4 linked regions of the Homo sapiens genome follow. The protein of the gene in region 1 interacts with the protein of each later gene in a pairwise test. Each region holds a gene or a part of one and is shown in the gene's direction. Other genes may lie near its edges.

Region 1 (3,500 bases):
GTAATGCTATTCATTTACATTTACTGCAAATTGTCATCTCTGAAGAAATACCTTCTCGGACCATTCAGCCTAAAGCAGCTTTTCCTTTCAAGTCAATCTCTATGACACTTCACTTTTGTGTTTTCTTCATAGCATTTATTGTCACCTGAAATCATCTCGTATATTTGTTCATCTAGTTCATTGTTTGTCTGTAGGCCCTTTCCCCCCAAAAGAAAGAAGAACAAGGTCCTTGTAGGATTTTTTCATATCTGTACACTGGAGTCCAGCACAAGGGCTAGAATATGCTAAGTGCTCAGTAACTAATTGTTGAATAAATATCAAAGAAAGAATGATATAGGATTAATTTATTAGTATTTCTGAAAAAGAAAAATAGCTGAATGGTGGGAGGTTTCATTAGTGTTCTTAACTCAATTGGTCTAATTTTAACGGAGAGGTTAAATGCAATTATCAACATCTATGGAATGAGGTAATCAGCATCCTTGTAATTCAAGCTCCCATGTAATGCACTTAATAATGTGAATGCCAGAGTATTTTAGCTACTTATAAGGATTTGACTGACAAGGACTTGACTGAATAGTAATGGATCTTTACACATCTGCTCTACGGGGACCTTTACTTATTAACTGTGTCATTGTTTATACTGCAGAATTTTTAACAGAAACTGAAAGAATGTAGAAATAATAGATGCCCTTGATTATAACTTATAGCTGACTTCTTCATGTCTATTATCTTTTCATTTATACTTACAAAAAAAGAAGCTTTTTAATTTAAGTCTTTCTCCCATAACCCATTGTAAGATACCACTCTTTTTATTTACCTTCTCAGGACTTAAAATCTCCAAATCAGAGAGATGAAATTGCAGGAGCCCGAGCTTCACTGAAGGAGAACTCTCCCCTCTTGCATTCAATTTGTTCAGCTTGTTTGGAGCATTCTGATGTTGCTTCCCTCAAAGCAAGCAAGGACACAGTTTGTGAAGAAATTCAGAATGCTCTCAATGTAATTTCAAATGCTTCACAAGGGATCCAGAATATGACAACCCCACCAGAACCTCAGGCAGCAACCCTGGGAAGTGCCCTTGATGAGCTGGAGGTAAGTCGGGAGAAAGATAAAGTGTGATCTGATGTCCTAATACAGTAATAATAATAATAAAACAGAAGAAGATCCACATGTTGGCGTTTAGAGCATGAGAAAATAAAAAATCCAGATTAGTCTCTATCACCTTCTTGAGTCTTCCAAAGAATTGATTAACAGGAAAGTACTCTGTTAGTAAACTTCTGACTCCTGTACATCTCTGCCAAGGAATCCAATGAATTTGAAGTGGGATTGTTAATTAGATCGAAATGATGACTTTGTTTTATGTAGATCTACTTATGAAGCATAAGATTTATTCACTCCACAAATACTTATTGGCATTACTGTTCTATGTGCTTGGGACATATCTGATCACTTCCCTTGACAAATTTTTACATTTTAGCAGGTGATTATAGGCAAAAAATAAAACCAATAAACACTGTAGAGAACAAAATTGTATAGATGTTACACTGAGAAGGTGAGATAATGCCAAAGCCTTGAAAGAGTTCAGGAATCGGGCAGATGAAGATCTAGAGCAAAGGCTTGAAGGTATGTGCCCTGTGTTTAAGTGACAACATAAAAACCAGGGTGTCTAGGTGAAGACAGCAAAGTGATGAGTAGCAGGAGCTAAGGTTGGAGAACCAACCATTTAGGAGTGTGTATGCCTTTAAGGACTTTGGCTTTTACTCCAAGTTAAATGGGAATACACTGAAAGGTTTTAAGCAAAGGTGTGACATGCTGCGACTCGTGTCTTAAAAGGACTATGATAGTTGCATAAGGAACATAGACTGAAGGAGAACAATGAGAGGAACTGAAAAACCAGGCTGGAGGCTATTGTAGTAACCCAGGTTCCATTTATACACTTTACATGAACCACCTCATGTTTTAGTTTAGACTAGAGTGGTGTTGGTGGACATCAGTGCTAAATTTTGTAAATAGAGTCAACTGAATTTTGATAGAATGGATGTGGGACATGAATGAAAGGAAGGAGTCATGGCTAGTGTTGTAGGCTGGGTCCTCCAGAATCACACACAGAATGGAGTTTGGAAAACAAGGTGTTACATTTGGGAAGGAAAGAGGGAAGGAGCGGGACTGGATAGAGGAAGAAGTCTACCTGACAGCTAGACCCGCAAAGCCTAGGCCAATCAGCAGGGAGCTCTGGTGAGAGCATTGCCCTCCAGAGTGTACCTTGTCAGGCAGAAATGGCCAGGCCTGTATGTCTCTTTCAGTCACTGGATGCAGGTTACTCTACCCTGGGAAGGGTATGACCTTTAGGGGCCTGAAACACTCTATATACACACTGAATATGTATTACTTTTGCACCATGATAAAGCTGGAAAAAATTATAAGTTGAACCATTGTTAAATCAAGTCAGGGACCATCTGTAGTCTGTATCTGGGGAGTGCCGAGTGTGATACATTGAAATTTGTTAGAGTAGATAGATAGGATCATACGGGTTGAGCATCCCTTATCTGAAATGCTTGGGACCAGAAGTGGTTTGGATTTTGGAATTTTTTGGATTTTGGAATATTTGCATATACCTAATGAATTATCTTGGGAATGGGATTGATGTGTAAACATGAAATTCATTTATATTTCATATATACCCTATACACATAGCCTGAAGGTAATTTTATACAACATTTTAAAAATTTTGTGCATGAAATGATGTTTTGACTGCATTTTAACTGCGACCTGTCACATGAAGTTAGATGCTGAATTTTTCCCTAGTGCCATCACATTGGCATTCAGAAAGTTTTAGATTTTGGAGCATTTTGGATTTCAGATTTTTAGATTAGCAACGCTCAACCTGTATAGCACATTTTTCACAGTACTAAAACACAATTGTGTCAGAGAATGCTCCCATAAGAGCTCCAGTTTATCTCAGACAATGCATTCTGTATTTTAGGATTAAAGAAGAAGACATTTCCAAATTGTTCCTCCTTCTGAGACCTCTTCTCTTTTCTCTTTTTAGTTGAAAGTGACTGCCACAGGCACAAAATGGCAGTGGTTGGAGAGGAGGAGAAAGTGTGCGTGTTATGTGTGTAACTTCAGTGGGAGTGGGCATAGGCAGGGCAACAGTGTTCTCTTAAGAAAGGCAGACTCAGTTGTTCTTCATGAGGCGGGAAGGGGTCCAAAAGATATTTCTCTGAGATCCTAATGAGGATTCTAAACTGTCTGAACAACCTTTGAAATTTAGTTCTAGTCAAAGGTACAGATGCACAAACTAGTAAAAAATGCCTAAGTTTTCTATATTTTTTATATCCAAGTTACAAATAGCTGCTGTGGCTGACTGAACTAGATAAAGCAGAATTTATTGAGCATTTAACCTTTTTTAATGATTTGGTAAATTAAATGGTTGCACTTTTCATTATTTACAGGAAGCTGTATTGGTAAAGGATCCAAAATAACCTTTGCTCTATTTTGCT
Region 2 (4,118 bases), on another chromosome or scaffold:
CCACAGGAACTCTGGCTTAAGTCAGAGCTGTCAACTGGGAAACAAATTTCCAGACATTTTGAAACTTAATTCATTTAATTTTTCTGGTAACTGGATTAGAAAATATGATTAAGCATAGCAGGATATTCTTTTACTGGATCAGTCTGACTTTGAACGAAGGAAATAGATACTACAATCTTAAAGTAGAAGAAAGAGGACTGTAAAGCCATTCTGTCTTATGAAACTTAGAAACAAAATGTAAAAATAATACACATGGCAGAAAGCCTTTAAAATAAAAGGAAAAATGGCATTTTCCTCTGTTGTTTAGGAAATTTTTCATGTGGCTGCATTTTTACCTTAAACTCTGATTGAATGTGTGCTAGACTACCTTTAGTTACAAATCCACAAATAGAAGTGAAGTATTTATCAAAGTACTATATAAATGCTTTTCAACTATTTGAAGCCACCTGTCAAGTGATTGAATCAGAAATGTTCAAAACTGGTTTGAGTATGTGTGTGTGTTGGGGATGAGGGTAGAAAACTAATTCTACATTATGCAAAGACTTATAAAAGTGATGAGGAAAATCTTTAAAAAGAAAAGACAATTAAATTCCTTGAGGTATATAGCCTGACAACAATTTATTTTTTGGATCATTTGACACAGTGTATGTAAAAGTGCATTGGGAATTGTGCCATTTTATACAAATATGAAATAGCACTACTTGTACTGCTTTGTACAACAGCGTGCATATCTTACTATCTTAGAGACTTTCTGAAACACTTATCTTGGAATTAGTTTCAACAAAGACGAAATGTAATAATAGGAAGGTGAAAATTATCTCTAGAGCTTTTAAAGTTAGGATAGATTTCAAGAAAGATTAAATCTGGAACTATATGAATAGCATAAAAATTAAAAATATTAAGAGAATTGATACTTTGTAATAAAGTATAATTATACTTTTATAAGCGTAATGAACATAAGTGTTTGTTGCTTTATGCATTTGTTTCTACACATGAAGTCTTTATTTTCTGAAGGAATCCCAATGGCCCTGGCTATAACACTACAATCATTTTCTTATTTTACAATTAATTAAAGGTTAAAACATTTCACATTGAGCTTGCTACTTTGTTTGTTTAAAGAAAAGTAAATTTCCTCTTATCTTACATTTTGAAGTTGCTCACTATAAACTTATATAAATTAGGCATAATGACAATTAAGTAAGAACTTCAAGCCCTATTCATCCCATGGCCGTCATACTGTGACGTCTTTCAGAGCACTTTGTGATTGCTCAGTCCTAAGTATAAGCCCTATAAAATGATGGGCTTTGAAATGCTGGTCAGGGTAGAGTGAGAAGCACCAGCAGGCAGTAACAGCCAACCCTTAGCCATTGCTAAGGGCAGAGAACTGGTGGAGCCTTTCTCTTACTCCCAGGACTTCAGCACCTAAGACAGCTCCAAAACAAACCAGAACAGTCAGCTCCGGGGGAGCACGACTGGGCGAGGTAAGTGAAAACTTTACCTTTCCTCTTCTTTTTCCCTCCTGCCTCTGGAACTTTTCTCACAAAATAATGAATTTTTCTCTCTTGAAAAGAATTTGATAGTGCTTTGCTTTTGCAACAGCAAAAAACAAGTTTCTCAAGTCACCTGGTAAGGATAGAAATACTTCAATTTCTCTCATATGGATAGATTTTCTGAATTCTTTTGTTTGTAAGATGCTTTACCCTGCTTGCTCTTTTACTGAATACTGATTTTTACAAATAATTCATTCAAGTAAAGTTTACTTGTATGTAGATTTTTGACTGAAAATTTCAGTGGGAACATTTGCTTTTGAAATTTTCAACTTATTTTTAAAGTGCTTTTTTTTTCCTATTTCGTATGTTGGTTAAGTGAATCTAAGATGCATTTATTTTTTCCTTAAGTTTAAATTCCATAATTTTTATAGGCAGCAAGAGAAACAGACCTTACTCCTAGGCTTTTAATCTAGAAACTAGAAATGAAATGTGTAAGTTGATTAAATGCAAGAAATGCAAGCTTTGCTTTTAATATATATTTTCCTCTTATGGAAAAATTTATTTCAATGACAACATATGATTCAGTAATATTTTGAGTATTAATATTCACTACTGAGTTAAGAAGTTCAAATCCAGGTGTAAGGAAATAAGTTTCCGTAATATCTACAATTGAAAGAGGAAAAAGTAATGTATATACAAAATCTTTTTTAAAATTATATGTATATATACACATTATATTTATACATTTGCACACACACGAGCAGAATAATTATTAAATAGATGATACTCTAGTCTTATATTAGTCAGATACTGAAATTTTAAAGCAGAAGAAAATCAATGTCTTGAAGCTGTTTCCTTCGTCAAAAAATACACTAAGCTTGAGTGGTACATCCCTGTTATGAAAAGATTGTCCCCAGGGTTATTTCCAGCACTATAGAAGTATGGCATTCAATAGATACTGGGGCCAACCATGTGCCCAGACAGCAGGTGAAAAGGATTCTAATTTTTATTCAAGCACCTGTCACTGAGAGAAATACTGATTTTTGAATGTATCATCTTGCAATTTAACTCTTTCTACAAGATGAAAATTACTCTTTACAAACTCTGCAAGAGCCATTGAAAATTACTGCTAGACAATCAGAATTACCTTGCTGGTGACATCTTTGGCTGGAAGAACTGAGGTGATTCTCTCTCTTTAGAGGCACAGAAATGGACACCAGAAATAAGGCCCAGCTCCTTGTGCTCCTGACTCTTCTCAGTGTGCTCTTCTCACAGACTTCGGCATGGCCTCTTTACAGGGCACCTTCTGCTCTCAGGTAAGTTCCCTTTCAATTCAAACATCTGAACATTCCTTCCTCATCTAAATGGGAATTTCCTATACATTTTGTTGGACAACTAAATAGTATAAATTATGTATTATGTATTTAAATTTTTCCTTGATGTGTTGAGTGAGAGGTGTTTGTCAACATCAGGTCATTCTGAGTCCTGGAATTCACTTTCAGGGCATGAGAGACACTGTCAGTTATTAGTTTTATGGGCTGAGTGGATCACATTCCCAAACATGGTGAAAGGAGGCTTTCACTTTCTTTTTATTCAAAACCATCTTTAGATAAATAATAAGCTTTTATCCATTGTTATCTCAAGTCAGTTCAATTTCTGGTGGAAAAAAGCTGTTTAGTTGCCAACCACATTTGAGTTTATTTTCAAGATTAATCAGTAAATAATCATAAGACTAGTAGTTGATTAGTGAAACATGTATAAAATCATGTTGCACAGAAATCTATCTAGGCAGAGTCAATTTGCCAATATTAAATATGGGGTAATTGATCTATTGAGATACACTCCCCCAATAGGAAAATTTTGATATACTTTGTTTGGACCATAAATCCTTAGTTTTATTGTTCTATATGTTATATTATATATTCCAAATCCATAAAGTATAACACAACTCTTATTTAAAACTTTATTAATGTATGCTAAAGAAGTAAACAATAAATGAAAACTATATTAGCTTGAATTTTCCTTTCAGTTTACGGGCACCACTGTATCTCCAAAGGAAAAATAATAATTGGGTTGGTTTCCTTCTTTGCTTATTAGGTCATTCTTGATTTTTTGCTTAAGGTAGACTTATGCTCAACAGAGAGAATAACCTCTTAGCTATTAGTGTTCTCTGTGAAATCTGTTTAAATACAGCTCCTGCGTTGCTTTGATAACTAAACAAAATGGTTCTATCTGAATAGTTCTACCACAGCAGATGAACAATCACAAGAATGTGGACATTTGTGTTGATTGCTAAGCTTCAGACCCACAGAGGACTAGTTGCTAGTGACTCCCAACTCCCAAATCACTGAAAGATACACAAGTGTCCAGGAGCTGACACGCTCCTTGGATGTTTGCCCTAACAGTGAAAATCTGCACACACAAAATTATAAGAGTTGCCGGTGATTGAAATATGCATGCATCCATAAATATAGTCATATTCCATATATGCATTTGACTATTCTTAGTCTTTCAGTGTAACATTGTACATCCCTTATTAAAGTTGTGTTAATACATAAGATTAGAAAAAAGAAGGCCCCATAAAACTTATTGAATTCAAATTCATCTTCATAGATGAGCTATCCATCT
Region 3 (3,500 bases), on another chromosome or scaffold:
AAGTCTTTGCTATTGTGAATAGTGCCGCAATAAACATACGTGTGCATGTGTCTTTATAGCAGCATGATTTATAATCCTTTGGGTATATACCCAGTGATGGGATGGCTGGGTCAAATGGTATTTCTAGTTCTAGATCCCTGAGGAATCACGTAATCTTTTAAACTCAATCATGCTAGTTGTAGCAATTGGTAAATTACACCAGTTACGTTACTATTAGGATTATTAGAGTGGCTTTAACAGATCTGGGTAGTCATTCTGTTTTGTTACTTTTTCCCTGATAGTACACAATGTTGTCAGGACAGGTTCCCTTCCAATCTCATGACCGAAGTTTGACGTGTACCAGCGCGGTGGAAATCATGAAGAAAATTAAAAAGGGAGATTTCTCCTTTGAAGGAGAAGCCTGGAAGAATGTATCCCAAGAGGCTAAAGATTTGATCCAAGGTAAGAATCTAATGAAATTTTACATTTTATATGATGTGTAGTGATTGAAGTAGAATCATGGCCATTACACATACATTCATATGTTAATTACTCGAGGAATCCATGTGTATTCTAAAAGGCTTCCAGGCTACTCTCTTCAGCCTTGTTTTCTTATCAGAACATTCTCTTTAGTAATGGTATCCACATTTCTAACATGAGCTAGCACTTGACTTCCACTGGCATCTCAGTCAAGCACATCTAAAACAAACCAATACTTTTTGACTGTCCTTCCCCCCAAACACGCTCCTCCTCCTGTCTTTCCTCCTGTCAACAGTGGCACTGCTAAGAAGCCAGATCACCAAAACAGAAACCTAGGCGTCCTCCTGGATACCTGCACCTGCCTGCCTTCTGCAGCCAGTCACAGAGTTCTACACATTCAGCAGCGCTCCTAGCAGTCCGGTCCCTTCCTTCCCATTCACCTGCCGTTGCCTTTGTTCTCATCACCATTTCTCTCCCCAAATCCTGCAGCATCCTTTCACCTTGCCTCACTTCCTCTGACTTAAGCTGTTCATCATCTGTCAATAGAGGGACTTTTCTAGAATCCCTATGTGATTATGCCTCTTTTCTGCCAAAAATCCTTTGGAGACTCTCTGTTTGCTTCAGGTCAGACTCCTTAGCCTAGCATTTAACATTCAAAGCCCCTCATGACCTGGTCCTGTCTGCCTTTGTTTCCTCCTCACCCCAGCTCTGCCGTTGCAGGATATTTGAATTCCTCAGATATGCTGAGCTTTCAGATCCCTCCGTGTCTTTACATGCTCTTAATCCTCTTCCATAGCCACTTCTCCTTATCCTACAGGATTCATCTCCTAGAAGCCTTCCAGGATGCCCTCACTCCCTAGGCTACACTCTCCCTCAGGCCTGCTAACACACTGTGCCTGTGTATCTTGCTATCGCACTTATCCCTGATGTTATAATAGCTGGGGTTTTGCCTGTGTGTCTTCTGATATTAATAGCTCCTCTCTGCATCTCCATCTCCATATCTCTAGTGCCTTACTGCACTCCCTGACCTATAGAAGATGGCCAGTAAATGTTTGGTATATGGATGAAGTAGATCTGTGTGCTTTTTGCTCATTTGGAGCTTACGAAGTCACCAGTGGGAATCTTTGTTTTGGATGTTTATTTTCTCCTGATTGAAAAGCCACTTCGCCTGGAGCTTCCTAGAAATAGGCTACTGTGACTTTATCATTAGACTCCAGCATTCACAAAAGAATTTAAATGAATAGGAAAATCTAATTATCTTTGTAGGAGGTTAAAGCTATATAGAAACCATTATGTCATGTGAACATAGCTGAGATTTATTTCTGAGTTTGTTTTTAAACCATGTTTAAAATGACAAATCATAAAATAAAAATATCTATTCCCAAAGGACTTCTCACAGTAGATCCAAACAAAAGGCTTAAAATGTCTGGCTTGAGGTACAATGAATGGCTACAAGATGGAAGTCAGCTGTCCTCCAATCCTCTGATGACTCCGGATATTCTAGGATCTTCCGGAGCTGCCGTGCATACCTGTGTGAAAGCAACCTTCCACGTAAGGCCCTGTGCTCTGTACATGTTGGGCGGTTTGAGTAGGAATCATAATCAAATGTTCTTACTCTGTAGCCTCAGATACGTTTTCTTTGTTTCACATTTAAAATAATATGTGTCCTTTTACTTTTAGGTATGTTTTTATAAATTGCTTCATGGTTATAAACACTTTATAACAATAAGTGCACAGGGGACCAGAGTCACTGCTAACCCACAAAATACATATTTAATTTTTAGAATGACCTTATGAGATGAGATAATAGAACTTTTTCCTCTCAAATAGACTGACTAAATTTCTTTAAAAACCATAATAAACATTAGGAACTAAGGCATATTTGAAAGTCCATTCATTTTACAACCATTTAGTACATCACACATTCTTAAAACTGGGAGGGATATGAAGTAAGTTCATTGGTATTAAGTATAGATTGTATGTTTGAAAGACTGAGACTATTTGGTAGAAACTGTGGATTATGCACATTTGTGCCAAGCAGATGCAAATATATTAAGATAATTCATGTGAAGTATAGTATAAGATGAGTTAGGGAAACAGAAAGTCACCTTCAAAGGGATTATTTTGAGAAAGGAGAAGGTATAGGGATAGTGCTTCTTCAGCAGCAGAAATGGATTTAAAAAGTAATAAACTAGGAAATGTTGAGATGGTAAAGAGATTAACTGCAAGAATTTCTATCAGATGATCCAAATCTTCTCAGTGACATAGGTTGCAAGGTGACAACTACAAGGTGTAACTGCAGCATTATCCAAGCCTAGGCTAAGGAGAGTGAAGACAGGCTGCAGGAGGAGGAAGCCAGGGCAAAGCTGTAGAGCTGTGCTTCTCCATGCGTGTAAGTGTCCAGTATATATCCAAATGACATTGAATGGGACTGAAGAGCAAAGACTCAGAATGCGTCAAGTCTGCTTGCATTGGGACTTTGTGTTCAGAATTTTAAATCTTAGACACAGAACCAGTAAAAGCAATGGGGATAGTTTAGATTACTGATGGTCTTCAGGAATTTCCAGTCAATTGTTTCGTATTAGGATGTAGTACTAACTTCTTCAAAAGATTTATTAGAATTGTGACTCTCAGACCGCCTAGCTAGTTTGATATAAACAGAGCCCTCAGAATTTTTTTCCCATGAACTTCTCCACCCTGCCAATAGACTTAGATATAAAGGTTTTAAGAGCTTTGTTCCCTTAAAACAACTTGGGGCTGCAGTTGCCAATGGAAAGTTGTCTTCTGCTGTAAGTCATAACTGCTAGGAAAGCTTCAGTACTTTTACCTTCACAGGGGTTCCCTTTTTTTCCCCCGCCAGGCCTTTAACAAATACAAGAGAGAGGGGTTTTGCCTTCAGAATGTTGATAAGGCCCCTTTGGCTAAGAGAAGAAAAATGAAAAAGACTAGCACCAGTACCGAGACGCGCAGCAGTTCCAGTGAGAGTTCCCATTCTTCTTCCTCTCATTCTCACGGTAAAACTACACCCACCAAGACACTGC
Region 4 (4,042 bases), on another chromosome or scaffold:
CCTTGCTACCAGGACAAAGGTCAAATCATACCTGGAGCTGGGAAACAAAGCCCTCTCAAATCTGAATATGTGTTTCACGAGGAGAGAGAGAGCAGCAGAGGGGACCACGAGGAAGGCAGAGATTCCCTGACCACCTCATGCCTTTGTACACCACTCGCCTTTACTCTCTGGATTAAACAGCATTAGGGAGACAAGAGAGGAAACACATGTGGTGTCTGGAGACCTGTGCCTGCCTGTTCCAGTCCCACACCCAGTCATCTCACCACACCCTTCACCTCACTTTACCTTCTCCTCCAGCACAGGAACTAGGAACTACGGAGAGAGAAGCCAAGGGAGAGGAGGAGGAGGAAACTAACGATTCCCTGCCCACCCCCACACCCAGCACCACCAACAGGTGGGCAAGCTTGCCGAGAAAACGCAGAGGGCATCCTGTGAGCAGCAAACACATCTGAGCCTGGAAAAGACGCAGAGAAGTAAAAGATCAAAGGTGAGGTAGGGGACGTGGAGGAAAGTGGGAGAGACAAAAGGAAAACAAAAAGTGGGGGATCATGAGAAGCAGAGGCAGGAAATAACAGGGCTTCAGACTTGGGTGCAGAATGGAGGTGGAGGACACAGCACAGATGGCATAAGAATTAATATTTCCTTGGTTCCTCCCAGGGAGTCCTTTCTCAACTTTGTAAGGCGTGCACAGAGGTGGCAAGGAAGCACCTTGCTCCTCTTCCTGGTTCTAAGGAAAAGGTGACCTTGAGCCAGTGGGTGTCTTTCCCAGTGCCTGCCTCTAACCCTGTGCTTTCTCCATATCCTCCTCTGGTATCTGTGTTTATTCCGCGGTTTCCCCGCGGCTGCCCCCGGGAGACCGAAGAGGTGGCTGGGGCAGGCCGAAAGCAGAGGAAAGGTTGGGCAGTGTCACCCTTGCACACCCACAGGGTAGACGGATCGAGTTTCAGCTTAAACCGAGGGGTGTGGGGGAAGGGTGTTGGGTTCAGCTAGTCCACGTGGGTGCTGTCCTCCACTTGGTGCTGAAATCTGGGCGGCCACATCCCCGGGGCGGGAGGGGGCTACATCCCCGGCTTTAGACGCGCGAGTCTCAGGTCCCGCTAATTACCTGGCGGGTGCTGCCCACCCCTGCCCTCGCGCACCTAGCGCGGTGGCAGGCGGGAAGGCGGGGCCTGGGGGAGCCCCACCCCTGGAGACTGCGGCTGGGGCCTCCCTCTCCTCCGCCCGCCCGCCTGCCACTAGCTCATTGCGCCTCTCCTGCAGTCTGATTGGCACCGGCTCCCATTCCGGCTCCAGCCTCCAATCCGACCCCCATTTCGGCTGCAGCCTCGGACCTAGCTCCGGCCCTCGGTCTATCCGGTTGCATCCTCCCTCCCTGTTCCGGATCTTATCTTGCGCCAGCGCCTACTCCAGGATCCCGTAGCCAGACCTCAAGCCATGGCTGGTCCCTTCTCCCGTCTGCTGTCCGCCCGCCCGGGACTCAGGCTCCTGGCTTTGGCCGGAGCGGGGTCTCTAGCCGCTGGGTTTCTGCTCCGACCGGAACCTGTACGAGCTGCCAGTGAACGACGGAGGCTGTATCCCCCGAGGTAACAGTGCCTGAGGCGCGGGAGGAGGCGGGGGCAGGAGGTGATGGGAACGAAGGTGCGGGTAGAAGTGAGAATCCGGGCAACAGAGAAGGGCTATAATCACGAAGGCCCTGGAGCTGGAGGGCTGTGCAGTCTGCAGACCTCAGTGGGGTGGGGGTGGGGGCCAAAACCATAAAGCAAGAACATTCCTGGGGACCTGCCAAGACCAGCTCTGGCCCTACGAGTTCTAGCTGCACTGGCTGCCCAAATCCCTAATTGTAAAGCCAGGAACTATCCTTTTCGCTCCCCTCCATCTCCTTCCCTCATTTCCTCAATTCCTCTCCTTAGGCTTTTCCCCTCCTCCATCCGTAGTGTTGTGTCATGGGAGGAAAGAACTGAGCAGATCTGAAGAAACTGAGCTGGCCAGCCAGAGGCAACTAGAACTATTAGGAAAGCATAGACTCTGAAAGTCCCTAAAGAGATTACCAAGGTTTACCCTCTTTCTAATTCCCCCTCCTCCCGCGGAGCAAAGCCAGACATGGCCAACTGGACAGCTCCCAGGTAACTGCACTAGGTCTAGGCGTCTGTGCCCTCCCTCCATGGTTACTGGGTACCCCCTCCCCAGCGCTGAGTACCCAGACCTCCGAAAGCACAACAACTGCATGGCCAGTCACCTGACCCCAGCAGTCTATGCACGGCTCTGCGACAAGACCACACCCACTGGTTGGACGCTAGATCAGTGTATCCAGACTGGCGTGGACAACCCTGGCCACCCCTTCATCAAGACTGTGGGCATGGTGGCTGGAGATGAGGAGACCTATGAGGTAGGGGGTCCCCAGAGTCTCCCTGATGATCCAATTCATCTTCCCAGTAATCCCAGCTCCTTTCCCCTAAAGACCTCTCACTTTCCCCCAAGACTCTGAGCCCCCCATACTTAAGTTTTCTGAACCAGTGAAATCAATGCACAATTGAAGTCTGGGGAGGGATTCCCTCTCCTTAACCATCTCTCCCTCTTAACTCCCCTTAGGTATTTGCTGACCTGTTTGACCCTGTGATCCAAGAGCGACACAATGGATATGACCCCCGGACAATGAAGCACACCACGGATCTAGATGCCAGTAAAGTGAGTTCAAATATCCCACTTCTGATTTGCATTGCCTGTGTACAACACTCTGTATCTCCAACCCCTTCACCTTATTTCCTGACTCATGGTCATTATACAGCTGAGCTTTTAATCTTAATGTAAGGAAAGAATCATATCTTAAGGGGCAGCATATATGGAGATGGAAGGATAGATAAGAATGACCATGACCCAAGGTGGGTGGTTTGGGGAAAGGTCTGCAATGCCCCCTTCAATTCCAGTGCTTTCCCAAAGGGCCTCTTCTTCCAATGCATGCAGGAAGAATGCACAAAGAGTCCTCTAATGCCTAAGGAAGGTCTCTCCTTTCCCAGGGGCCCTCAGTTCCCACCGTGTTTCTGTGACTTACATTCATTTCCCTTATCTCCCAGATCCGTTCTGGCTACTTTGATGAGAGGTATGTATTGTCCTCTAGAGTCAGAACTGGCCGAAGCATCCGAGGACTCAGTCTGCCTCCAGCTTGCACTCGAGCAGAGCGACGAGAGGTGGAACGTGTTGTGGTGGATGCACTGAGTGGCCTGAAGGGTGACCTGGCTGGACGTTACTATAGGCTCAGTGAGATGACAGAGGCTGAACAGCAGCAGCTTATTGATGTGAGGGCCTTAAGAGGGTGCTGGTTGGTGGGAGCAGATGGGGAAGGCTGGGCCAGATGAGACATGGGCTCTGAAAGGCCCAGGGGCCACCATGAAGATTCTTAACCCAAGTCCCGTTACTCTTCCCAGGACCACTTTCTGTTTGATAAGCCTGTGTCCCCGTTGCTGACTGCAGCAGGAATGGCTCGAGACTGGCCAGATGCTCGTGGAATTTGGTATGAAGCTGCTCATTACCTCTTTTGTCTTCATGCCCTCATAAATGCTTTTTTTCCCTCTATCTCTCCCAATTCTTGCCTTGCCTCTTGATCACTGTCCCTCTCCGGCCCTCAGGCACAACAATGAGAAGAGCTTCCTGATCTGGGTGAATGAGGAGGATCATACACGGGTGATCTCCATGGAGAAGGGTGGTAACATGAAGAGAGTGTTTGAAAGATTCTGCCGAGGCCTCAAAGAGGTTAGAGAAGATTGTGTAGGGGAGCTAGGTGGGAGGACATAAGGAAAACCAAAGAGTAGCATAAATAGATTATGTAATTTATCAACCAACCCAAGACATGTCTGATGGTAAAAAGGACTACCTAGGACTCACTCTAGGACTAAAGGTATAAACCAGCTGGGACCATACTGGGAAAACCAGGACATGTGGTCACACTAAGATTAGGAAAAGAGTGTCAGGAACCTTAGAAAGTGAAGAAGGCAGGTAATGCAAAGAAGGAATAACTGAGATGGCACGTCAGTGCCTGGGATGTGTG

What was found. Proteins that work in one complex are often made in the same cells at the same time.
Region 2: the proteins of CTNNA3 (region 1) and VIP interact in binary tests that used the Homo sapiens proteins (3 or more experiments, as listed by UniProt).
Region 3: the proteins of CTNNA3 (region 1) and RPS6KA5 interact in binary tests that used the Homo sapiens proteins (3 or more experiments, as listed by UniProt).
Region 4: the proteins of CTNNA3 (region 1) and CKMT1A interact in binary tests that used the Homo sapiens proteins (3 or more experiments, as listed by UniProt).

What each region holds. Positions count from the first base shown.
Region 1 is NC_000010.11:67,217,196-67,220,695, reverse strand, and holds part of CTNNA3 (catenin alpha-3), read left to right. Parts: intron 1-825; coding exon 826-1,089; intron 1,090-3,500. UniProt on the Homo sapiens protein: May be involved in formation of stretch-resistant cell-cell adhesion complexes.
Region 2 is NC_000006.12:152,749,479-152,753,596, forward strand, and holds the start of VIP (VIP peptides isoform 1 preproprotein), read left to right. Parts: upstream 1-1,318; 5' UTR 1,319-1,481; intron 1,482-2,689; 5' UTR 2,690-2,699; coding exon 2,700-2,806; intron 2,807-4,118. UniProt on the Homo sapiens protein: PHM-27 and PHV-42 are two bioactive forms from proteolysis of the same precursor protein, that cause vasodilation. PHM-27 is a potent agonist of the calcitonin receptor CALCR, with similar efficacy as calcitonin.
Region 3 is NC_000014.9:90,872,142-90,875,641, reverse strand, and holds part of RPS6KA5 (ribosomal protein S6 kinase alpha-5), read left to right. Parts: intron 1-281; coding exon 282-441; intron 442-1,846; coding exon 1,847-2,010; intron 2,011-3,319; coding exon 3,320-3,500. UniProt on the Homo sapiens protein: Serine/threonine-protein kinase that is required for the mitogen or stress-induced phosphorylation of the transcription factors CREB1 and ATF1 and for the regulation of the transcription factors RELA, STAT3 and ETV1/ER81, and that contributes to gene activation by histone phosphorylation and functions in the regulation of inflammatory genes.
Region 4 is NC_000015.10:43,692,617-43,696,658, forward strand, and holds the start of CKMT1A (creatine kinase U-type, mitochondrial isoform 1 precursor), read left to right. Parts: upstream 1-1,242; 5' UTR 1,243-1,434; coding exon 1,435-1,583; intron 1,584-1,910; exon of another isoform or gene 1,911-2,094; coding exon of another isoform or gene 2,095-2,187; coding exon 2,188-2,386; intron 2,387-2,589; coding exon 2,590-2,685; intron 2,686-3,071; coding exon 3,072-3,293; exon of another isoform or gene 3,294-3,294; intron 3,295-3,422; coding exon 3,423-3,508; exon of another isoform or gene 3,509-3,512; intron 3,513-3,623; coding exon 3,624-3,747; intron 3,748-4,042. UniProt on the Homo sapiens protein: Reversibly catalyzes the transfer of phosphate between ATP and various phosphogens (e.g. creatine phosphate).